3 separate regions of the Homo sapiens genome follow, and regions 1 and 3 are each linked to region 2. The links come from fine-mapping of genetic effects on gene expression. A gene starts in region 2. Each other region holds a variant in brackets. All regions are shown on one strand. Distances are between the middles of the regions.

Evidence for each region. PIP is the estimated chance that this variant, and not a neighbour inherited with it, causes the effect.
Region 1: its variant is the best candidate, but not a certain one, in a credible set for the expression of CASKIN2 in thyroid (GTEx, PIP 0.58).
Region 3: its variant is the best candidate, but not a certain one, in a credible set for the expression of CASKIN2 in tibial artery (GTEx, PIP 0.54).

The regions. Positions count from the first base shown.
Region 1 is chr17:74,637,589-74,645,764 of GRCh38, reverse strand. No RefSeq gene overlaps it. Among named protein-coding and RNA genes, the nearest start is that of CD300E, 18 kb to the right of the region's middle. The variant A/G (reference allele first, on the strand shown) is at 3,256.
Region 2 is chr17:75,512,042-75,520,217 of GRCh38, reverse strand. It overlaps CASKIN2 (CASK interacting protein 2), which reads left to right and starts at 4,681. Exons shown (of 20, transcript NM_020753.5): 1 at 4,681-4,817; 2 at 6,010-6,507. The coding sequence starts at 6,414. It overlaps TSEN54 (tRNA splicing endonuclease subunit 54), which reads right to left and starts at 3,690. Exons shown (of 11, transcript NM_207346.3): 1 at 3,602-3,690; 2 at 3,308-3,472; 3 at 3,146-3,209; 4 at 2,974-3,057; 5 at 2,563-2,661; 6 at 1,171-1,223. The coding sequence starts at 3,657. RefSeq lists silencers at 3,452-3,831, 4,222-4,831 and enhancers at 3,616-3,910, 5,005-5,571.
Region 3 is chr17:75,444,211-75,452,386 of GRCh38, reverse strand. No RefSeq gene overlaps it. Among named protein-coding and RNA genes, the nearest start is that of TMEM94, 8.3 kb to the left of the region's middle. The variant T/A (reference allele first, on the strand shown) is at 4,605.

The DNA of each region.
Region 1 (8,176 bases), 870 kb after region 2:
GCCCACCTTGGCCTCCCAAAATGCTGGGATTACAGGCGTGAGCCACCGCACCCGGCCTACCTTGCACTCTTCACCTGCAGCTGTCAGTGTGGCTCCCACCCTTCTTTCAGGTCTCTGTTAAAATAAGATAACACTTTATCATAGATACCTTCTCTATAGATATTAATACAATAGCATTTGCCTCCCCTCACTCCCTCTACCCTTTTTGTCTTCGGGGCACTTATGACCACCTGGTACATTTTATATGTGTTTATTTTCTCCTCTCCCCCTCCCCCTAGGAGAATGTAAGCTTCCTGAGGACAGAAGCTTGATTTGTTTGTTGCTGCATTCCAGCACCTAGCACGGTATTTGGCATGTAGTAGGTGTCCAGTAAATATTTGTTGAGTTGAATGAATGATAATTTATTTGAGATTTGGAGGAAGAGTATGAGTTAACCAAGCAAAGAGAGGAAAGGAGCATTTTAGGCCCAGGAAACAGTGTGTGAACAGTCACTGTAATCAAGGGAATGTGTTCTGTCTGAGGAACCAAAATCTTTGTGGTTGCCCCTTGGGGATTAAGTGGGAGGTTATTATGGCTTGAGGCTTGGGAGGTCAGCAGGGGCCAAACTGAGGTCCAGTAGAGGAGTTGTAAGAGCCCTGGGAGGCTGTTAATGTTTCTTACAGGGGGAGTGGCAAGATCAGATTTGTTTGCAAAAATACCATTCTGGCTGCACAGTGGCGAAAAACTAAGAGTGAACGTGGGCAGACCACCTGGGAGGCTATTGACAGACGATGGTAGCTTGGGCTAGGTTGGCAGAGAAGGAGATAGAGAGATGGACAAATCTGAGAGCTTTAACAGGAGGCAACATTGAATGGGCTCCAGGCAGGACAGAGTGTGGGGATGAAGACACAGAGGGGTCAGGGATGAAAACTAGGAAACAGTGTAAGGTGATGGGACTCCTTTCTGGAGGGCATAATTGTGAGTTTACTTTGGACTTGTTGAGTTGGATGCATCTTTGAGACGGCTCAAGTGCAGATATCAAGGAGAGGGATGGCAAGGAGGTCTGAGGTTAGAAGAATGTTTGGACTGGAGATTGAGTTTTCCAGGAATCTGCTCAAAATGGTTTTTAGACCCAGGCTCTGACTGACTTTGAGGATAGTTATCTTGGGATCTGTAGCTTTATGTCTTGCTGAAACTGGGAAAATTTTAGCCGTTATGTTTTCAAATACCTTTTTGCAACTCTGCTTTCTTTCTTTTCTTCTTCTGGAACTTCAATGACATGAATGTTTGCTCTTTTATTACAGTCCCACAGCTACCTAAGGCTCTGTTCATCTTTTAAAGTCTATTTTCTCTCTTTTGCTCAGATCAGACAATTTCTATTGTTCTGTGTTCAAGTTCACCGATTCTTTCCTCTGTCCTCTCCCTCCTGATGTTGAGCCCATTAGCTGAATTTAAAAAATTTAGTTATCATATTTTTCATTTGTAAAATGTCCACTTGCTACTTCTTTGTGTCTATTTCCTTGCTGAGATTTTCTATCTTTTCATATATTTCAAGCATGTTGAGGAGATTGCCATAGCATTGTGTTTGAACACTTGCTTGTCAAGTAGTTGCTGCTTATCATCTCAGTTTCTTTCTTAAAAGAAAAAAAAAAGCAGTAGAATAAACAATGATTGCAGGTGTGAATGGAGACCACCATAAGAAGAGATAGGGAGGCACCAAAGCAGAAGGCAGAGCATGCAGCACTTGCTCTCTGTAGCATGGTCAGCCCAGAGTCTAGGAGGACTGGGCTGTATAGAGGGGAGAGCAGAGCTCAGTAGGCAGAACCATGAAGCTGCTTTTCACCACCTTCCTTCTCTCTCTTCTAGTTGCCTGGGGCAGAAGTGTTGATGGAGAAGTGGGTTAACATAGTAAGTATGTGGGGGACAGTTGAAATGGCAAAGACTTTCTGCTTATTTCTGGAGCCATGCATATGTGCTTAGTACAGGAATTGAGAAAATCATGTGTGTTATTCCAGAGATTAATTCCAACCTTTCTTACCTGCATATAGCATCAAAACCTCCTTCTTTATTTTGAAATAATTTTAGATAATTTAGTATCTTATAGTTTGTAAGAATCTTTCTTTCTTTCTTTCTTCTTTCTTTCTTTCTTTCTTCTTTCTTTCTTTCTTTCTTTCTTTCTTTCTTTCTTTCTTTCTTTCTTCTTTCTTTTTCTTTTTTTTTGGAGACAGAGTCTTGCTCTGTCACCCAGGTTGGAGTAGAGTGGCGCAATCTTGGCTCACTGCAACCTCCATCTCCTGGGTTCAAGCCTCCTGAGTAGCTGGGATTACAGGCACGCACCACCACACCTGGCTAATTTTTGGGTTTTTAGTAGAGACAGGGTTTCACCATATTGGCCAGGTTGGTCTCAAACTCCTGGTCTCAAGTGATCCACTCGCCTTGGCCTCCCAAAATGTTAGGATTACAGACATGAGCAACCACACCTGGCTGCAAGGTTGCTGAGTGGACGGACATTCACTCATTCATCTCTTCACACAGCATGCATTTACTGAGCACCCGCGGTGAGCTGGTCACTGTACTTACTGCTGGGATATGAAGATGAGTCAGACACCGCACCTGCTCTGGAGTGGGGGTTTCTATTCTTATTGGAGAGGGGAACATAGATAACCTCACTCTGGCTTCTGGTTGGGCTCAGGTTGTCAATGGAGGAAAATGACTGAGGCAAGTCTCAATCATTTTAGGAAGTTTATTTGCCAAAGTTAAGGAAACGCGCCTGGGAGACAGGTCTATACCTTTCTCTGAAGATGATTTTGGGGGCTTCAATATTTAAAAGGGAAAGGGTGGGATATTGAGAAATACACAATTTTCTTGTGAGAGGGGAGGTGGGGAAAATAGCCATTCAGGCCTTTGTCTGGCTCAGTGAATCTGCATTTTTACCTAAGATAACGTAAACAACAGGGCAGAGGAAACAGTCAGATATGCGTTTGTCTCAGGTGGGCAGAGGAATGACTTTGAGTTCTGTCCTGTGTCTCGCACCTGTGAAGATAAGCTATCAGTTTACATTGGCATGGGGAAATTTAACAGAAACGCTTTAAAGACCACAATGTGAGGGAGGTTGGTAGCCTGTCATCCTTGTCACCATCTCATTTAGGAACCAACATGGGAGGTAGGTTTGCATGACCCAGTTCCCTGCTTGACTTTTTCCTTTGGCTTAGTGAGTTTGGGGTCCCAAGATTTATTTTCTTTCCAAGGAATGGCAATGGGTGGTGCCAGCAGGAG[A/G]AAGGAAGGTGAGAGTTTCTCCTGCCCAGGTGCCACCCTGCTGGGCTGGAGTGTCCGTTTTCCTACTTTGAGGTCACAGCCCCTGTGGCATGGTCCTGTCCTACAGTTCCTGTGGGTTCTGGTTATTTCTGACACCTCTCCCTGTGTTAGAGGTGTCGTGGCCCTACTGCTGTTGCTAGTCCTGTTTTTTCTCCATCTCTTGTTGATTTCACTTAACTCTTTCCTTCTCTTTGTAAATTTCCCCTGCATTAGATTATTCTGTTATACCAACTGAGCCTGCCATTGGCCCACTCCCAGGATCCTGACAGAATCATGATCTCTCCTTCTTCTTTGTATACACAGCGCCTTTACTTAGTAGACGCTCATTAAGTGACTGTCCAATTAATAATAATGTAACATGTTAGGGGCTGTGTCAGCAATTTTTGGGTAAGATTTGCCCTCTGAACATCCAACTCCCTGTTTTGATGTCAGATAAATCTGCTGGATTAGTATATTTGAAGACACAATGATACATAAAAATGTGACTTAACTTGTCTGTTTTTGGAAGTTGTAGGCTCTTGAGAAACTGGGTGGGTGCCCTGTGATGCTAATTATTATGAGAATTAAAGCCACAAAGTTTCTGTTGTGATTAGTAGTTTTCCTGTCTCCAGCTTCTGCTTTTTCTGAACAGCTCTACGTATAAACATTGATGCAATGGGAAAACAACAAAACTGAGGTGTAGAAAAGAGAGACGCAAGGGAGTAGTAAGAAACATGAAAGCCAGTTTCAGTCCAGCTGACAGAAGCTCCCCAAATGTTGGCAGATGAGGCAGAGAGAGCAAAGAGACACAGTGACACATCTGCCCCTCCTGGACATCCTGGGTCCGGGGAGTGGGGTGGGGGAGGCTGGTGGGAGCATGAGGAACAGCAGGCCTAGTGGCTGGGGAAGGGGAGGTGGGTGGGGCTGGGGTGCACTGGGGAGAGGATGAGGGAATCAGAGGGATGACTAGAGTTTCAGGCTCCAGCCTCAGATGGGTGGGCTCTGCTGATAACAAACAGAGGCCCAAGGAAAGCGACTAAGCCAGGCCTGGTAGTCCAGAGGGCACAGAGGCAACCCAGGGTGTAGTGGGGAGCCCCTCCAGGGCCAGGCGAAGTCTTGCTCAGCATGAGGTCTGCAGCTGCAAACACAAAGTAGGACTCACACTTAGCAGGGCCTCCATATGCGGCAGCAGAATGCACAAATGGATTTGAGTTGTTCTGAACATTAGAGAAGCCCAGTGGGGAAAGGAATGCAGGGTCTGGGTCAGGTGCGGTGGCTCACGCCTGTAATCCCAGAGCTTTGGGAGGCTGAGGTGGGTGGACCACCTGAGGTCAGGAGAGGAGCGCCGTGTACCATCAAGACAGCCCTGGCAAATGCTTTTTCACAGTGGTCACAAAGAACCCCAGCAAGGAAGATGTGGCTGTGTGCTGGTGTGCAAAGAGAGATGTTTTTATGCACCCAGGGGACATGGGATGATTGCTGTTTTGTCACATGGGAGTGTCCTGTAACCCCCACCCTCCTTCCCAAAGAGCACAGACTGTGTCTGACAGCTGGTATGTGTGTGCACGTGCGCACATGTGTGCTTGCACACCTTCTGCAGGCTCCTCCTCTGTTCTAGCATCAGAGTCATATCTCTCTCATCTGTTTCTTTTTTCTTTTTCTTTTTTTTGAGTTGGAGTTTTGCTCTTGTCACCCAGGCTGGAGTGCAATGGCACGATCTTGGCTCACTGCAACTTCCTCCTCTCGGGTTCAAGGGATTCTCCTGCCTCAGCCTCCCAAGTAGCTGGGATTACAGGTACCCACCACCAATGCCCAGCTAACTTTTGTATTTTTAGTAGAGACAGGGTTTCACCATGTTGACCAGGCTGGTCTCCAACTCTTGGCCTCATGTGATCCACCCGCCTTGGCCTCCCAAAGTGCTGGGATTACAGGTGTGAGCCACCGCGCCCTGCCAGGGTGGGGGGTCCTAGCTAGGAATACATAGAAAGACTCTGGAGATTCTTTTAATAGGATATGCGAAACTCAGTGTATGTGTGTGTTTTCCTAGGGCATGGGTGTATAGCTTTTGTTACAATCTCAAGTGTATCTGTGACCTCAGCTCCCCGAAGTTAAGAACACAGGGGACTCTCTCTCGCCTTGAATCCTCCAGAATTCGCTCACCAGCCCTGTCTGGTGTGGATATGAAGGTGAAGGAGAGGCCTCGGAGGCTTAGGGCGGGACCCATGGGCTCCTAACAGTGGCATTGCTCATCTCTAATGTTCCAGGTCTTTTCTGGAGAGCCCTCTCTCCTATTCTAGGCTCTGCTTAGCACCGTCAACGTTGCATCCCTTAGTAGCCTGAAATAAAGGGGAGAGAAGCAAATGAAAAAGGAGACCCATGGGGAAGTTATTTGCACAGACGAAGGCAAGTGAGTCAGCTGTGCAGGGTGGGTCTCGGAGGAAGATGCAGGAGTCATGGGCGTGGTGAGGTGGGGGGCACTGGGGCTCGAAGCCCAGCAGTCGCTCACTTTGGGGCTTTTGTCCCTCTGCATAGGTGCTTCTAACGCTGCCAGCTCCTGATGCCAGCACTCCTTTCTCAGCCTGCTCTCTGCTCAAATTGAGTATTAAAAAAAGAAATAAAAGCCACAAATGGGCTGATGTGAGCAGATGGTTTCGGTCATAACCACAAAAACCTTCTTGTTTCCCGTTCCTGATCGACACTGCTCTTGCATAACGCCAAGTCCATGACACTGATGAAGAAAATGCTGGCATTATCTGCCTGTTCCAGGGATGATGGACTGAAAGTTTGTGTCCCCCTTCTTCCCCCACCAAAGATTCATATGTTGAAATCCTGACCATGAAGCTGATGGTATTGGGGGTTTGGGAAGCGATTAGGTCTTGAAACTGGAGCCCTCATAAATGGGATGAGTGCCCTCATAAAAGAGACTCCAGAGAGCTTTGTAGACCTCCCTCTCTGCCATGTGAAGATGGAAAGAGAAGGCAGTCATCTGCAACCCAGAAGAGGCCTTCGCCAGAGCCTGACCAGGCTGACACCCTGATCTTGGATGTCCAGCATCTATAACTGTAAGAAATAAATGACTGCTTAAGCTGCCCACTTTGTAGTATTTCAGTTACAGCAGGCTGAATGGAGCAAGACATAGGGTTGGCCACTGCAGGGCCCCCTCTTTTTTTCTGGACCAGAACGTGCTCGATGGAGTTTCTGGGCACCAAGAGACAGAGGGTGGTGGGAGAGTTCCCTTGTTCTTTATTCTGGATTGAAGTAAAATGCTCACACATAATTGATGTCATGAATTTTTTTTTTAAGTCGGCGTCTCAGTCTGTCACCCAGACTGGAGTATGGTAGCGTGTTCTCGGCTCACTGCAACCTCCACCTCCCGGGTTTAAGGACTCTTATGCCTCAGCCTTCCGAGTAGCTGGGATTACAGGCACGTGCTACCACGCCCTACTAATTTTGTATTTTTAGTAGAGATGGGGTTTCACCATGTTGGCCAGGCTGGTCTCAAACTCCTGACTTCAGGTGATCCAACTGCCTTGGCCTCCCAAAGTGCTGGGATTACAGGCGTGAGCCACCTCACTCGGCCCATGTCGTGACTTTTAGTATTTTTTGACCATGACTCACAGTGAGAAAGTTAGTTACTTGGCAATACTTGTATACGCATACAGAAAAAAAAAATAAAATCTCAGTGTTTATCATTATAACCTGAGATGTGCTCTGATTGATCCTGACATACCCTGTTACAGACCAAAACATGACTGAGGCAGGTCTCAGTGCATTAGAGGTTTGTTTAGCCAAGGTTGTCCAGGAAAAAAAAAACAAAACAAAACAGATCACAGATGCATTTTCCAAAGGAGGTTTTAGGAACTTTTTTTTTGTTTTTTGAGACGGAGTCCTGCTCTGTCACCCAGGCTGGAATGCAATGGCATGATCTCGGCTCACTGCAACCTCCGCCTCCCGGGTTCAAGCCATTCTCTTGCCTCAGTTTCCCGAGTAGCTGGGATTACAGGCACATACCACCATGCCCGGCTAATGTTTTTGTATTTTCAGTTGAGATGGGGTTTCACCATGTTGGCCAGGCTGGTCTGAAACTCCTGACCTCAGGTGATCTGCCCGCCTCAGCCTCCCAAGGTGCTGGGATTACAAGTGTGAGCCACTGTGCCCGACCGGGAACTTCAGTCTTTGAAGGAGGAAGAGAAAGCAGGAGGGAAAAAAGGGAGGGAGGGGAGGCAGGGAAGCAAATGGTTACATTCCCGTGAGGCTCTGATTAGCTTTGGTAAAACTACATTTTACACCTGGAAAGAGGAAGTGGAGGGAAAAGTCAATGATGTCTTGTGTGCAGCTCAGTTAATCTGCATTTGACTTAAGATAAAGTAAACATGTGAAGAGCGGGAGTACAGGGTTGTGCCATTGCAGCCATCTGTTTGGGAACAAGAGGAAGACAGCATTGGTGACCCAGTTCCTAAGCTTCTCTTCCCCTTTGGCATAGTGAGTTTGGGAATCTGAGATTCCATTGGTCTCTCACACTACTTGTAAGAAAAAAATCTGCTTAAGACCCACAACCAGGTTGCAACCCTCAGTTTGGACAACACTAGTCTCATCGTTTTTGCTTCCTGCCAGAAAGAGCAAATCTTCTGTGATAACAGTGTCTGGAGCCCCAGAACGGGTCACGCTCCCCTGGTAGCTGAGAAGGGGACAGGAATGACAGAGGATTTCTGCCTTCAGCCTGTCTCAGAGCCTTGATCCAGCAGGGGAAAGGAGCATTCTGACCTTTCTCCTTTTTTTTATATTAATCATTTTTTTTTCTGGTGTAGGGAATCATAGGACTCAAATGCAACTTCCACCCATGGGGAGGTCTAATGATAACGTTGGTCTCATCTCACAAGGAGGCAAGTTTCTCTCATCTAAT
Region 2 (8,176 bases):
CATGTATTAGACATCACAGACACAGAACATTTTCATCATTACAGAAAGTTCTATTGGACAGAGCTGCTCTAAGGGATAACCTCTCATTTGTGTGAGCCTGCCTCTTGTTCAACTCTTGTTTGCAAGTACACTGATTTTGCACAGTGAGTGTGTTCTGTGTGACTCCTCACTAAATGCAAGCTCTGTGAGGGCAGTGATTTTGCTCTTCTGTTCTCAGCGATGTGTACAGGGCCTGACCCCCAGCAAATAATAAATATCGTTGATCATTCTCACAGGTGAACCACTGTACACGTCCACGATTATTTCCTTAGGATAGGTTCCACTTTCAGAAAAGAAAAGATGTAGAGCTGGGCGTGGTGACTCATGCCTGTAATCCCAGCACTTTGGGAGGCTGAGGCGGGAGGATCATTTGAGGTCAGGAGTTCGAGACCAGCCTGGGCAACACAGTGAAACCCCATCTGTACTAAAAATAAAATAAAATAAAAAAATTAGCCAGGCATGGTGGCACACGCCTGTAATCCCAGCTACTTGGGAGGCTGAGGCAGGAGAACTGCTTGAACCCAGGAGGCAGAGGCTACAGTAAGCTGAGATCATGCCACTGCACTACAGCCTGGGCGACAGAGTGAGACTCCGTCTCAAAAAGAAAAGAAAAGATGTGCCTGCTTTAGAGCTTTTGTGACATACTGTAACTGCAAAAGCTGTACCCGTTTCCACTCCAAGTCTGAAGGTCTCTGCCTTTTACCAATGCTGGATTACTAAGGTGATGAAGGAAAAAACATTTAACCTGGCATGAAAAATGTGAAACCCTACTAATGGTAAATTCTTCACCCAGTCCTTCATTTAAGCATACACTCTACATACCTGCCTGCGCACCTACTAAGTGCCAGGCACTGTTCCAATCCTGCCTCTCAGTGCTCACACACACTCAGCTGCAGGCGCAGGTCATCTGAAGATGCGGCTCGAGTTCATAAACCAGAATAAAACAAAATGACCTGGATTCCTCCCAACCTGCCTCTCTCAGAACGCTTCCAGCAGGCGCCCCCAGTCTGTGCCCAAGGAACTGCACTCCAGCCAAGGGTTCCAGGTAAGGAGAGGCCATTTTCTACCTTAGACTAGTCAGCCAGGTCCCAGGACTAGAATATATGGAAGGGGAACAGGAAGGGGATTTACCTTGGTTGGAATCGTCGAACCACATAACCCAACCTCTTCAGGTGGCTGAAGACCTCAAAAGAAAAAAAAAAAATGAAAGCTCAGATGGCCACTCTGGAAAACACCAAATGGTTTCTCCAGACACAGGCCATCCCCACAGCCCTCTCTGCCCCTCCTGTACACCCCCAGATTCTAAACCCTGTGATTAAGGTTGGACCATGCTTCATTACGAACACCATCCCTAAAGATCTCAGGCTCTGAATTCCTGTCCTCCCACTTACCTTACTCGGCACAAATGACATTTAGCCAAATCCAAAAAAACTGATAGCCATGAAACCAGAAAACCACCACGCCCTGAAATACTTGAGTATTTTGATACAAAGCTCATAGGAGTGAAGCTGCCGATCACCATGTGAACAAAATGATGGCAGGTGGTGGGCATCTCTCCAGCCCCACACCTCCACAGATGCCGGTGGGAAGTTTCTGGTAGGGAGCCACATATTCAACCTTGTGTCCCTGCATTCATATCAGAGGAACATAGATAAGAATGTCCCCCATCCTGCTTGATCTCAGCAGGCTTTAGCACAGCTAACCACTTCCTCCTTGAAAGACCTTCTTTTGGCTTCTGTGATGCGACTTTGGTTTTTCTCCTGCATCACCAGACACTCCTCGGTCTGTTTCTGCTTCTTATCTGCCCCCTAACCTACACAGAGAGCCCCAGGGCTCAGACCCAGCCCTCTACTCTGATGGCACTCCCATACAGCCCAGTAGTTTAAATACCATCCATGTGCTCATGGCACCCATATTTACATCTAGCCTTGACCTCTCCTCACACTCCAGACTTGGATTCCAATTGTCTGTCTGCTTTACACTCACTTGGATGTCCAAGAAGCTCCTCAAAATTAACTTATCTGACACAGTTCTTTCGACTGGTCTTGTCCTCCCAAATCTGCTCCTCTTCATTCTTCCCACTCAGAAAATGACAGCACCTTCATCCACTGGTGCATGCCCAAATCATGGGCGGTAATCCTGGGTTCTTCTCTCTCCTTAATCCTGACATCCAATCCATTGGCAGTCCTATCCATTCTTTCTCCAAAATATTTCTGAGATTCATCTATTTTTCACTCACTGCAACTCTACCCACCCCCAACCTGCGACAAGCCCCTAGCTTCTCTCACCTGAATGAACAGCCCAGTCTCTTTGGATTCTCTTCCCCCACCTTATCTTCTGACAGCACTGGGGTCTATGTGAAGCCAACAGGCCACCACCACAATGTAAGCCTCGTGACAGCATAGCCCTCGTCTGCCCTGCAGCCCCAGCATGTGACACTGTGCCTGGCACCTTATGGGTACTTGTCAATACTCATTGATTCAGTGGATGGGTGGCTCCCGGAGGCGGGGTGGTGGCAGATACCTGGTACTGCAGGAAGGTCACAGTGTGGTCGGTCAGCAGCAGCTGGTAAGCTTCCTGGATAGACAGTGGCAGGTCTTGGTGGAAGAGGTGGATGGAGCCCTGGAAGTGGGGCCAACAGCTCAGCTTATGAGCCCTCACTACAGTGCCACAGAGGAATGGGGCAACTTCCCAGCTCTGATACCTCCCCCTCCCCCTCTCAGCAGCGCATCAAGAATGTGGCCAACCAGGAAAGTGGGGCAGCATCACTAATGTGGACTGGAATCCCTGCTCCCTGCAACGTACCACCTCCTGCTTTAGAAGTTTGGTTATCAGTTCTCTAAAGACCGGGTTGTGTGTGCTTTTTCTCCGATAAAACGTGTCCTTCCCGTTCTTTGGTCCCAACTCCTTCCCCACCTCCCGGGCCCCACTTACACACTCCAGAAGATACAAGGCCTCTTCCGGGTGAAGGCGCTGCCGGCCCTGCTCTGAGAAGCCCATGGTCTGCCAGAATTTGCCCTGTGTGGGGCCCAGAGCAAGTGTCACAAGGGAGGGAGGGCAGGGAGGGCAGGGAGGGCGGTCCCCGGTCCCCGAGCCCGCCGCTCACCGCGGGAGACTTCAACTCCACGAAGCCCTCTTCTGGCCTCCACTCGGCAGCCACCAAGCTGCCCCTGGCGAGGAGTGGGGAGGGGTCTGCGTCAGTCCATTCCGGAGACCCCGCGGCCCGCCTCGCCCCCGCTTCCCTTACCCCTGGGCCCGCCCCTCTCACAGGCGCTCCACGCGCTGCTCTGCCAGCAGCTGCCAGAGCTCTTCCCGGCACCGGCGCAGCCGCTCGGCCTGAGCTGCCGAGCCGTCGGGCAGAAAGTCCTTGGGGCCATGCGAGCGCTGGGGCAGCTTCTGCGACCGCGAGCGGGCGGCGAAGAGCTCCCGGGCGCTGGGGGAGAAGGGGACGCGGGGTCAGCGCCGCGCATCGGGGGCCGCCTGGCCGGGTCCCGGGCGCCGGTTTCCCTACCCGCGCTGGCCCCGCGCCCCCGACACCCACTCCGGCCGGGCCGCGCCGCACCTGAGCACGCGCCCCGCGGGAACCTCCACGGCCGCGGGCTCGGGCTCGGGCTCCATCCCGCCGCCGCCTGCCGCTGCGCGCGCCGCCACGCCCCGCCCACCGCCGGAGCTCCGCGCTGCCCTAGTGCCCGCCGATCCGCAATGCCGCGGCAGCCCCGCCCCCTGCACCGCCCCAGCCCGCTCTGCGCCCTCCTGATTGTCCCCGGTCCTAGCGCCCGCCCGGAAGCGCACCCCGACGCCGGGTCTGGGAGCTCAGCCCGCAGGTTGCTGGAGATGCAGAAGGCCCCTCTTTTGCCCCTAGCCCTCCTCGGGGCTTCTCTCCAGTAAAGCCTGAGGAGCCGGCGTCTGGAGTGCAGTGCGAATGGTCACACTTGTGACCGCCCCTCTGCAGCCTCGCGCTGCTTAGTCCCCACCGCCCGGGCTGGGCAAGGAGGGCAGAAGGGCTCAGGGAAGGACGAGCGGAGGGTGTGCAAATTCCGACTTTGCAGGCCGAAGGCCACCCGGGAACTGTCAGGAGCGGTCCGGGGAGGTTCGCCATTCCTTCGGTGTCTTCCGTCCGGTCCCTACGGCTGGGCTCCGAAGCCAGGTTTCGAGGGCCGGGGGCGGGAGGCGCTGTCCGGCCCACGACGGTGCTGAAGCGCCACCTCCGCCCGGCACGAGCGCCTCCTCGAGGCTGGGGTCCCCGCACTGGTGCCGTCCGCTAGGTGGTGCCATTGCCCGGCCGGCGGCTGCGGGTGGGCGACGCCGGCCGCAGACGGGGGGTACTGCAAGTGGGGTCCCGCGTCTTGGTTGCCAACCCCCTTCACATTACGTCTTCTCTCCCACCAGTCAGACCCGGGGTGTCTAGCCCTTGGGTCTAAGTCCAGAGCCCCAGGTCACCTCTGCCCCCGCGCCCCCCGCCCCTCCGTTTCACCTGGGCGCATGCGCTGATCCGGTCAGCGCCCCCGGTCCGGGCGGGCACGAGTTGGGGCGGGATCTGGCGCGGATGGGGGCGGAGCCGCCGGTGCTGACTGACAGCCTGACTGCGCGGCCGGGACGGTCCCTCCGTTCCCGATCCGGCGGGAGGGAGGGGGGAGGGGCGGGATTTCCTGCGGGAGGCGCCGAGCCGGCCTTGGAAAAGGAGAAGGAGAAAGGGGGGCAGGGGGGAGTGGGAGCCACCGTCCTGAGTGCCAGGGACCGAGCAGGGCCAGCCGGACCCCGGCGGGCGGCCGGGAGAGGTGAGGCTGCGGGGCCCGCGCTGGGGGTCAGCGCCCCTGGGGGCGGGCGCAAACTAACTTTTCTTGCGGGGTCGGCGGGCACCTCCATCTCCCCGCTCCTTCCGTCCTCCTCGCGCCCCTTTTTCCATCCTCCGCGTTTATACCTCGGGCGCTTGGCCCGCCCGGCTTCTCCCGCCGCTTTGTTCCCCGGTGGGCCTGGGCTGGGCTGGGCTGGGCTGGGGGGTTGCGAGGCGCTGGAGGGACATTCCGGGGGGCGGGGGAGCCAGCCCGACCCCAGGCACTGCCAAGGGCGCCCTCCGCCCGTGTCGGCCGCGGGCTCCGCGTGGGAGTGCCCCTGGGTTGGGCTTGGGACGTTTGGGGAGTGAGGGGTTCCCGGCCAGGGCCCCAGGCCTGCGCGGATCTCATGCCACAAGACTCTGGCAGTAAATTCGCTGCCACCGAGAAACTGACGTAAGCTTCTCTGCGGTGGAGTCCAGGGTCTGGGCTTCAGGTTCAGGCTTGGGGGGCTTGGGAGCCCCGTTTGTCAGCAGTGCCCCAGCTCTCTCTGTTCTCTGCCCAGCTGCTCCTCCACCCGACACAAGGGGCGAGGGCGGGTCAGCAACAGGTGCTGTGCAGCTTCCCTCTCTAGCAGGCAGAGCCCCCAGAAATGGGGGGCCAGAAGCACTTCATGCTCTCCGTTCACAAAGAGTCCTAGGACTAGGGCATCCAGCCATTAAAGCGAAGCCTTGAAGCCTCCGTAGGGAGGAATCTGGGGGCTGGTGCCTTTGACAGGGAGTGACCCCTGCCCGCCTGCCTGTGCCTGACCCTCCCGGCCCCACCTCCTGGCCCGCCAGTTGTCTGTGGGTGTCGGAGCCTCGGGCTGTGGAGAACAGGCTGCTGGCCCGGCCTGCCCCAGTATGTCATGCTGCCAGGGCCCCTCCTGCCCAAGGTTGAGGTACTGCCAGGTGCCCTGGGGCCCCAGTGACTCAGCCTCCCCCTCCCAGAATGCCACCTCCCCCCCACCAATACTCCTCTCATGCATAGCAGCTTCCTCCCCACTTTCAGTGGCTCAGCATCACCATCGACTCCGAGGGGAGCCAGGGTGGCTTGGGGGCTCCCTGGAGGTCTTGTCCTGCTCATCCTCTGCACTCCACTTCTGGGACCCTTGCAGGCTGTGGCCCAGCATTCGACAGAGGCCCCGTGCTTTTTCCAGAGCCCTGAGACCAGTGCACCGCTGCTGCCTGAGGCCCAAGGGAATGCTGGCTGCTCTCTGGGTGGGCACTGGTGTTCCACAGCCAAGCCGGGAAGATTGGTGTGCCCAGTCCCAGCCCATCCTGGAGCTGTCGGAAGCCACAAGCTGATATCCATCCAGATTTCCATGTAGCCTTCACCCCCTCAAAGATTAGCTTTCCTTCGTGTGGTGGCAGTTCACGGAGCACCTTTGGGAGTATCCCTCAGTACCTGACGAGGAGCCCACTGCCTGGGACACCTGACTTGCTCCCCCGGAACCGGGAGCCCTCCAAGGGGCTGTGGCATGGCGCCCTGACGCCCCAGCTTGGACCCGTTGCCTGCCTTTGCCCTGGACTCCTGAGTGTAGAGCTCAGCCCAGGAGCCAGTATGGGTCGTGAACAGGACCTGATCCTCGCCGTCAAGAATGGAGATGTGACCGGTGTGCAGAAACTGGTGGCGAAGGTCAAGGCCACAAAGACAAGTGAGTACCGGGTGGGACGAGCATCCCGCTGAGGCCGAGCGCTCAGTTCACAGAGGCTTGGTGGGTGGGGGTGGGTCACTGTGATCTGCATATTTGAGGAGGGTGGACTGTCTTGTTCTCAGTAAGAAGTGCCTCTGTGTGAGAGAGCCAGAGAGAAAGTTGGGTCCCCCTTGCTGTGTGTCCTTAGGCAAGTCACTTAACCTCTCTGGGCTGCAGTTTCCTGGCCTGCAAAATTAGAGGGTTGAAGTACGTTCATTCACATTGTTATTGAGTGCCTATAGCTTGTCACCCAGGCTGGAGTACAGTGGCAGGATCTCGGCTCACGGGAACCTCCGCCTTCTGGGTTCAAGCCATTCTCCTGCCTCAGCCTCCCTAGTAGCTGGGATTACAGGTGTGTGCCACCATGCCCGGCTAATTTTTTTTTATATTTTTGGTAGAGATGGGGGTTTCACCATGTTGACCAGACTGGTCTCGAACTCCAGACCTCAAGTGATCCACCCACCTAGGTAGGCCTCCTAGTACTAGGATTACAGGCGTGAGTCACTGTGCCTGGCTCAGGCTCTGTTCTAAGCACTGGATCATAGTAGTGAACAAAACAGACCCAAATTCCTGTCTTCGTGGAGTTGCCTTCTAGCAGATGGTCTTTCTGATGTGTTCTTTGGAGCCATGAGATTTCTGACAGTGGGTTAGAGAAGACTGAATAGATAGAACTTCATCCCTACCCCCAACCTCAAACGCACACATTTCAACCAGAGCACCTCTATGTTCGTGTCTTAAGAGGATATCTATAAGATAGCTGTTTTTTTTTTTTGAGACGGAGTCTTGCTTTCTCACCCGGCCTGGAGTGCAGTGGCATGATCTCAGCGCACTGCAGCCTCTGCCTCCCGGGTTCAAGCTATTCTTCTGCCTCAGCCTCCCGAGTAGCTGGGATTACAGGTGCCTGACACAACGCCTGGCTAATTTTTACTAGAGACGGGGTTTCACCATCTAGGTCAGGCTGGTCTCGAACTCCTGACCTCAGGTGATCCACCCGCTTCAGCCTCCCAAAGTGCTAGGATTGCAGGCATGAGCCACCGCACCAGGCCACGAGATAGCTTTTAAAAAGGGAATTCTACTGCTTAAAAAAAGTTCAACACTCTCTAACAAGTTGCTAAAGTTTCTCTTCCCCTGACATGTGTGTCCTGGTGGGGTGTGGCCAGAGCTCATTTACTGGAGATTTTCACCTAGCCTCGAGACCTGACCGGGCTGTGGGGGATCCATGCACAAGCGGCCACACCTGAGCCCCATGTCTTGGGTACCTCTGTGGTGCGACCCCCCACAGGGAGAATAGACCTCTGGGCTTCAGGGAGGGCTCTCTGGGCTGTCCCAGGAGGCCGCTGGACTTGTCACCTTGAGATCCCAGATCAGCATAGGCAGGAGGTGGTTCCTGCCACCAGACTGAGGCAGGAGGAGTTCCCTGGATGGGAAGGTCTCCTCTGGAGTTCAGGGGCTCTAGCCCCAAGATACACCTCGGTCCTGTGCACAGGAAGGAGTCCCCCAGGCTACCTGAACACCTGGGGTATGGGTGCCAGAGGAAGGGCCTTAACCTCATGCATCCACTAGCACACTGGGGCAGGAGACGCAGGGCCTGGAGAGGTGGAGCTGTGGGGTGGTCTCTGTGCCTAGGGAA
Region 3 (8,176 bases), 68 kb after region 2:
TCTATTAAAAAATTTTTCAAAAGAGAAAAAAGTATATAATAAAAAAGAAATAATGGGCTTCGAATCACACAGGGGAAAGGTTTGGAGGGAGATAGCAATGGATGAAGACAGAGGCTGGCATTCGGGGTCGGGACTGAGGATACTTGCAATGTGAGGCCTGGTGAAATTATCTGAGCCGTTGATTCTTGAACAGGTAGTTCCCATGTTCAGCTTGCTCCATCGGCAAGAGCCTTCTGCCTAGGCCGGGCGCGGTGGCTCCCGCCTATAATCCCAGCACTTTGGGAGGCCGAGGCGAGCGGATCACGAGGTCAGGAGATCGAGACCATCCTGGCTAACACGGTGAAACCTCGTCTCTACTAAAAATACAAAAAAAAAATTAGCCGGGCGTGGTGGCGAGTGCCTGTAGTCCCAGCTACTTGGGAGGCTGAGACAGGAGAATGGTGTCAACCCAGGAGGCGGAGCTTGCAGTGAGCTGAGGTCACGCCACTGCACTCCAGCCTGGGTGACAGAGCAAGACTCCGTCTCAGAAAAAAAAAAAAAAAAGAGCCTTTTGCCTCTAAGTTGTGAGTGATATTTTTAGGAGAAGCTGCTCCTTTAATCCCTGCATCGTGTAGTAGTGATATCTCACTGACAATAGGCTCCTCTTGGGCCCTTTGATTCAACCAAGAGGTCCCACTGAAGAACATTGTTGTAAATACTGCCAGCGAGACAATTCTGACACGTCTTTGTACCCCTAAAGAGTGGTCTGGGCCAAGCCTGTAATCCCAACACTTTAGGAGGCCAAGGTGGGAGAGTCACTTGAGCCCAGGAGTTTGAGACCAGCCAGGGAAACACAGGGAGCCTCCATTTCTACAAAAAATTTAAAAATAAAAATAATTAGCCAGGCATGGTGCACAACTGTGGTGCCAGCTACTCAGGAGACTGACGTGCAAGGATCATTTGAGCCCAGGATGTTGAGCCTGCAGTGAGCTGTGACTGTGACACTGCACTCCAGCCTGGGCGACAGAGTGAGACCTGCCTCAGAAAAACAAAAAAGGGCTGGGCGTGGTGGTTCACGCCTGTAATCCCAGCACTTTGGGAGGCCAAGACAGGCGGATCATGAGGTCAGGAGATCGAGACCATCCTGGCTAATACGGTGAAACCCCATCTCTACTAAAAATACAAAAAATTAGCCCGGCATGGTGGCGGGCACCTGTGGTCCCAGCTACTCGGGAGGCTGAGTCAGGAGAATGGCTTGAACCTGGGAGGTGGAGTTTGCAGTGAGCCGAGATCGTGCCGCTGCACTCCAGCCTGGGTGACAGAGCGAGACTCAGTCTCAAAAAAACAAAACAAAACAAAACAACAAAAAAAGTGTGGTCCAGAAATAGATGGCACAACTTTACAACACAACATGAGCACTGGCCACACTACGGTCCCCATTCCCATACTGCATTCACAGTCTGCAAAAGTTAGATCCCTAGGTAACAATAAATGGCCACCCAAAGACATTGTTCATAAGCACCCCAAATGGGAAACAAACTGAATATCCACCAGCTGGGGAACAGGTACCCAAATGGTGGTGGATCTGAACAAGGGATTACTACTCAGCCATACACATAAGTGAATGAGGCTGGACGTGGTGGCTCACTCCTGTAATCCCAGCACTTTGGGAGGCTGAGGCGGGCAGATCACCTGAGGTCAGGAGTTCAAGACCAGCCTGGTCAACATGGTGAAACTCTGTCTCTACAAAAAATACAAAGCTAGCTGGGCATGGTGGCGTGTGCCTGTAATCCCAGCTACCCAGGAGGCTCAGGCAGGAGAATTGCTTGAAACCGGGAGGCAGAGAGCCAAGATCGTACCACTGCACTCCAGCCTGGGTGACAGAGCAAGAATCTGTCTCTCAAATAAATAAATAAATACGTAAGTAAGTAAGTGAATGAGGCCACTGATACACATCCCAATCTGAAAGAATCACACAAATGGCATGAGGAAGGGAAGAAGCCAGACATAACAGGTTATGTACCCTGCAATTCCATTCATATCAACTCCTAAGATGGGAATCTGGAGGACAGGCAAGGATGGACTGCAGAAGGGCAGAAGGGAACTTTTGAGAGGTGAAGGAAATGCCCCATATCTTGATTAGGGTGAGAGTTATGTAGGTTTATACATTTATCAAAACTCGTTCAACTATGTACTTAAAATCTGTAGGTTTTAGTGTATTTAAACTATATCTCAATTTTTTAAATGTATGTGGCCGGGTGAGGTGGCCCATGCCTATAATCCCAGCACTTTGGGAGGCCAAGGCAGGCGGATCACCTGAGGTCAGGAGGTCAAGACCAGCCTGGCAAAACCTCATCTCTACTAAAATACCAAATTAGCCAGGCATGCAGGTGGGTGCCTGTAATCCCAGCTACTTGGGAGGTTGAGGGAGGAGAATCGCTTGAACCCAGGAGGCAGAGGTTTCAGTGAGCCTGGATTGCACCACTGCACTTCAGCCTGGGCAATAGAGCGAGACGCCATCTCAAAAAAAAAAAAGTACACACACACACACACACACACACACACACAGACTCTCTTTTTAATTTTTTTTTTGTAGAGATAGGGTCTCACTATGTTGCCCAGGATGGTCTCAAACTCCTGTTCTCAAGCAGCCCTCTTGCCTTGGCCTCCCAAAGTGCTAGGATTCAGCCAGTTGTGGTGGCTTACGCTTGTAATCCCAGCACTTTGGGAGGCCGAGGCGGGTGGATCACGAGGTCAGGAGATCGAGACCAGCCTGGCCAACATGGTGAAACCCCATCTCTACTAAAATACAAAAAACTAGCCGGGCATGGTGTTGGGCGCCTGTACTCCCAGCTACTCGGGAGGCTGAGGCAGGGGAATCGCTTGAACCCGGGAGGCAGAGATTGCAGCAAGCCGAGATCGCGCCACTGCACTCCAGCCTGGCGACAGAGCAAGACTCTGTCTCAAAAAAAAAAAAAAAAAGTGCTAGGATTCTGGGTGTGAGCCTATGTACACTTTCAGTTGGGGGATGATTTTGCCTCCTAGGGACATTTGGCAATGTCTGGAGACATTTTTGGTTGTCACTACAGGGGTTGGGAGAGGGCTGCTACTGGCATCTAATGTGTAGAGGCCAGGAATGTTGCTAAATATCCTACAACTTACAGTACAACCCACAACAAAGAATCATCTGGTTCAAAATGTCAATGGAGCAGTGGCTCATGCCTGTAATCCCAACACTTTGGGAGGCCGAGGTGGGCAGTTCACTTGAGGTCAGGAGTTCAAGACCAGCCTGGCCAGCATGGTGAAACCTCCTCTCTACAAAAAATACAAAAATTAGCCAGGCATGGTGGTGTGCACCTGAAATCCTAGCTACTTGGGAGGCTGAGGCAAGAGAATCACTTGAACCCGGAGGTGGAGGTTGCAGTGAGCCGAGATCATGCCATTGCACTCCAGCCTGGGTGACAGAGTAAGTGAGACTGTCTCAAAAAAAAAAAAAAAAAGCAATGGAGCAGAGGTTGCCTAGCCATAAGTTTAGCATCATGCGTGTATCATCTTACCGATCTTTGATATTCCCTGTACTGGAAGCCTCTTTTTGTTTGATTTCCAGGAATAATGAAATCAGTAGCCTTAGTCTATGCTCACAGACACCAAGGTCTTCCGTGTGCTGCAAAGCAGCCATCTTAACTTCCAGAGCAGAAGCTGTATTTCACTGCACATTCGTAGAAACTGAGACTAATCTTCGTTGCCTGTTGTGCTTGGATAGTTTGGCGTTTGGTCAGAGGGAGTGCAACAGAAGATAAAGCTAGACGAGATTGCGACTATTTTCTAAGGAGCCAGGGACGTTATGAATCACCAGAAGATAAATGCTGGAGGTGAACATTTCCTCCTCCAACATTTTTAAGTAGAGAAATGAGACAGTCAAGCTTAAGAGGAAGATGAGTTTGTAGAAGATAAGCTAGAAATAGCAGTCTTGGGTCAGGTGTATTAGCTCATGTCTGTTTAATCCCAGCACTTTGGGAGGCCAAGGCAGGAGGCTTGCGTGAGGCCAGGAGTTGGAGACCAGACTGGGCCACAAAGTGAGACCTTGTATTTACAAAAATTTTTTTAAAGATTTTAAAAAATTGGCCAGGCGTGGCGATGCATGCCTGTGGTCCCAGCTATAGTACATGGGAGGATCCGTTGAGCCCAGGAGGTCAAGGCTAGGGTCAGCTGTGTTCATGCCACTGTACTCCAGCCTGGGTGACACAGGAAGATTGTCTCAAAAGAAAGAAAAGAAAAGAAAAATAAGGGCCGGGCACGGTGGCTGATGCCTGTAATCCTAGCATTTTGGGAGGCCGAGGCGGGCAGATCACCTGAGGTCAGGAGTTCAAGACCAGCCTGGCCAACATGGTGAAACCACGTCTCTACTAAACATACAAATTAGCCAGGAGTGGTGGTGCACATCTGTAAGACCAGCTACTCGGGAGGCTGAAGCAGGAGAATCGCTTTTACCTGGCAGGCAGACGTTGCAGTGAGGCGAGATCACACCACTGCACTCCAGCCTGGTCAAGAGAGCAAGACTCTGTCTCAGAAAAAAAAAAAAAAAAAAGAAGAGAGAGAGAGAGACAGGAGCCAGTGGGGACAGG[T/A]AGCCAGCCGTGGTGGTCCAGGCACTAGCTGACGAGATACCCAGCCCTACTCCCATCCCAGAAACCTTATCTGGCACTTTATTTCCCAAATACCAATCCCAGTCATCTCTGCCTAGCATTCTTGACTATTTTTGAACGGCTTCTTAGCATTTGAGGTGTAAATATCACTTCATTCACTAAATTTTAAGCTCTTTGAGAGCAGGGATAGTGCCTTACTACTTTTTAATTTCTCTCAGATTATCAGAGGGATTGTTGACATGTACATTTGTGTCCTAACAGTGACACCAAAATTCCTCCTGGGGAGGAAACTGTCTTTGCATAGGAAAATCACTGGTAAATGTTTTAAGAAAAGATGAGACCCAGAGCCCAGGTCAGCCTGCATCAAAGCAGTAAGAGAATGAGCCCAAATGCTCTGCATTTTATTTATTTATTTTTTATTTTATTTTATTTTATTTTATTGAGGTGGAGTCTCGCTTTGTCATCTAGGTTGGAGTGCAGTGGCGCGATCTCGGCTCACTGCAACCTCCGCCTCCAAGGTTCGAGTGATTCTCCTGCCTCAGCCTCCCGAGTAGCTGGAACTACAGGTACCTGCCACCATGCCCAGCTAATTTTTGTATTTTTAGTAGAGACAGGGTTTCATTATATTGGCCAGGCTGGTCTCAAACTCCTGACCTCAAATGATCCACCCCCCTTTGCCTCCCAAAGTGCTGGGATTACAGGCATGAGCTACCATGCCTGGCCTGTTTTTATTTTATTTTATTTTATTATTTATTATTCATTTATCTATTTATTTATTTATTTTGGGATGGAGTCTCACTCTGTTTTCCAGGCTGGAGTGCAGTGGCGCAATCTCGGCTCACTGCAAGCTCTGCCTCCCGGGTTCACGCCATTCTCAGCCTCCCAAGTAGCTGGGACTACAGGCACCCGCCACCACGCCCGGCTGATTTTTTGTATTTTTAGTAGAGACAGGGTTTCACCATGTTAGCCACGATGGTCTCGATTTCTGACCTCGTGATCCGCCCGCCTCACCCTCCCAAAGTGTTGGGATTACAGGCGTGAGCCACCGCGCCTGGCCTATTTTTATTTGTTTATTTTTTGAGACGGAGTCTCACTCTGTTGCCCAGGCTAGAGTACAGTGGCATGATCTTGGCTCGCTGCAGCCTCCATGTCCCAGGTTCCAGCGATTCTCCTGCCTCGGCCTCCCGGGTATCTGGGATTCAGGCACGCGCTACCACACGTGGCTAATTTTTGTATTTTTAGTAGAGACGGGGTTTCACCATGTTGGATAGGCTGGTCTCGAACTCCTGACCTCAGGTGATCTGCCCATCTCGGCCTCCCAAAGTGCTGGCATTACAGGTGACAGCCACCATGCCCAGCCATAAATGGTTGCCAGGGGCTGGGGTGTGGGGAGAAGAATGAGGAGTGACTGCTTTTTTTTTTTTTTGAGATGGAGTTTCGCTCTTGTTGCCCAGACTGGAGTGCAATGGCACAATCTCGGCTCACTGCAACCTTTGCCTCCTGGGTTCAAGCGATTCTCCTGCCTCAGCCTCCCTAGTAGCTGGGATTACAGGTGCCCACCAGCACTCCCAGCTAATTTTTTGTATTTTTAGGAGAGACAGGGTTTCACTATGTTGCCCAGGCTGGTCTCGAACTCCTGACCTCAGGTGATCCACCCACCTCAGCCTCCCAAAGTGCTGGGATTACAGGGCGTGAGTCACCATGCCCAGCTGCTTTTTTTTTTTTTTTTTTTTAAATGGAGTCTTGCTCTGTTGCTCAGGCTGGAGTGCAGTGGTGTGATCTAGGCTCACTGCAACCTCTGCCTTCCTGGTTCAAGAAATCCTCCCACCTCAGTCTCCCAAGTAGCTGGGATCACAGGCGTGCGCCACCACACCTGGCTAATTTTGTATTTTTAGTAGAGCAAGTTCTGTGGGTTCTAACTCCAATTTGCTGTGTTGGCCAGGCTGGTCTAAAACTCCTGACCTCGAGAGATCCTCCCGCCTCGACCTCCCAAAGTGCTGGGATTACAGGCGTGAGCCACCACACCCAGCATGCATTTTAAAAATGAACCAAAAATTTAGAATTGGAAGAGAAAGAGAGGAGAGAGCAGAGAGGAAGGCTGAGCCATGTGTAAGGAAGCTGGAGCCTGAACGGTGGAAATGGCAGAGGACTTTTGGAGAAAAAACACTGACACTGAATTGAAAGCTGCTCACGTTTCTACGATGTAAATCCCTGCATCTTCCCAACTGTCCTACAGAGATCTCTACATGTATAGAAACCTTGTGTGAGCAGTTGGTTTAGTGACAAGTGGCAAGGGTATGTTTCACATCTCAGTCTGTGCTCTTGGATAAGGAACTACACCCATGGGATGGGGGGAGAGTCCCTCAAGTAAACCAGTTCATGGGAACCAGAAGCAACCATGAGAACATATGATCCTATGATCCTGCAAAGAAGTCTTCTTTTTTTTTTTTTTTTTTTTCTGAGACAGAGTCTCGCTCTGTTGCCCAGGTTGGAGTGCAATGGTGTGATCTCGGCTCACTGCAACCTCCGCCTCCCAGGTTCAAGCAATTCTCCTGCCTCAGTTTCCTGAATAGGGGGCATTACAGGCGCCTGCCACCACACCTGGCTAATTTTTGTATTTTTAGTAAAGATGGGGTTTCACCACGTTGGTCAGGCTGATCTCGAATTCCTGACCTCAGTGATCCACCCACCTTGTCCTACAAAAGTTCTGGAATTACAGGCGTGAGCCACTGCGTCCGGCCTCAAAGAAGTCTTTCGAACAGGGTTTAAGTAACAGTGTCTAGATCTATAAGGGCCAAAGAAGCCCCCTGCTGTACCTAAACAATATTTATATAGCTGCCTCTGGGGTTCTCTAAAACTGAGTTGGGGCCAGGCGAGGTGGCTCACGCCTGTAATCCCAGCACTTTGGGAGGCCGAGGCCGGAGGATCACGAGGTCAGGAGATTGAGACCATCCTGGCTAACACAGTGAAACCCCGTCTCTACTAAAAATACAAAAAAAATTGGCCGGGTGTTGTGGCGGGTGCCTGCAGTCCCAGCTACTTGGGAAGCTGAGGCAGGAGAATGGCATGAACCCGGGAGGCGGAGCTTGCAGTGAGCCAAGATCACACCACTGCACTCCAGCCTGGGCTACAGAGCAAGACTCCGTCTCAAAAAATAATAAAAAACTGAGTTGCTTCAATATGGGAGGTACGCTAATGGGAGGAGGTAGCTGGGTTCCTCCCAGTCCAGTAGAACACTGGCTCATCTACAGAGGGAGACACATTGTTTGAAACAGGATGGAGAGTATTGGAGAGGCAGTCAAACATCGCGCAGAGAAGCACTCTTTGTCAGTGAATGGTCAGGGCCTTGTAGGGTAACAAGACATGCTTCCTGAAACAGTTAGAGCTATTTTTGGCCCACCCTTCTCCATCTTAGAAATACTTTTTTCTGAGAGGCTGAGGCAGGAAGATTGCTCGAGGGCAGGAGTTGGAGGCCTCAGTGAGCTATGACAGCTTCAATACACTCTAGCCAAGACAACAGAGTAAGACACTGTCTTTAAAAATAACAAACAGCC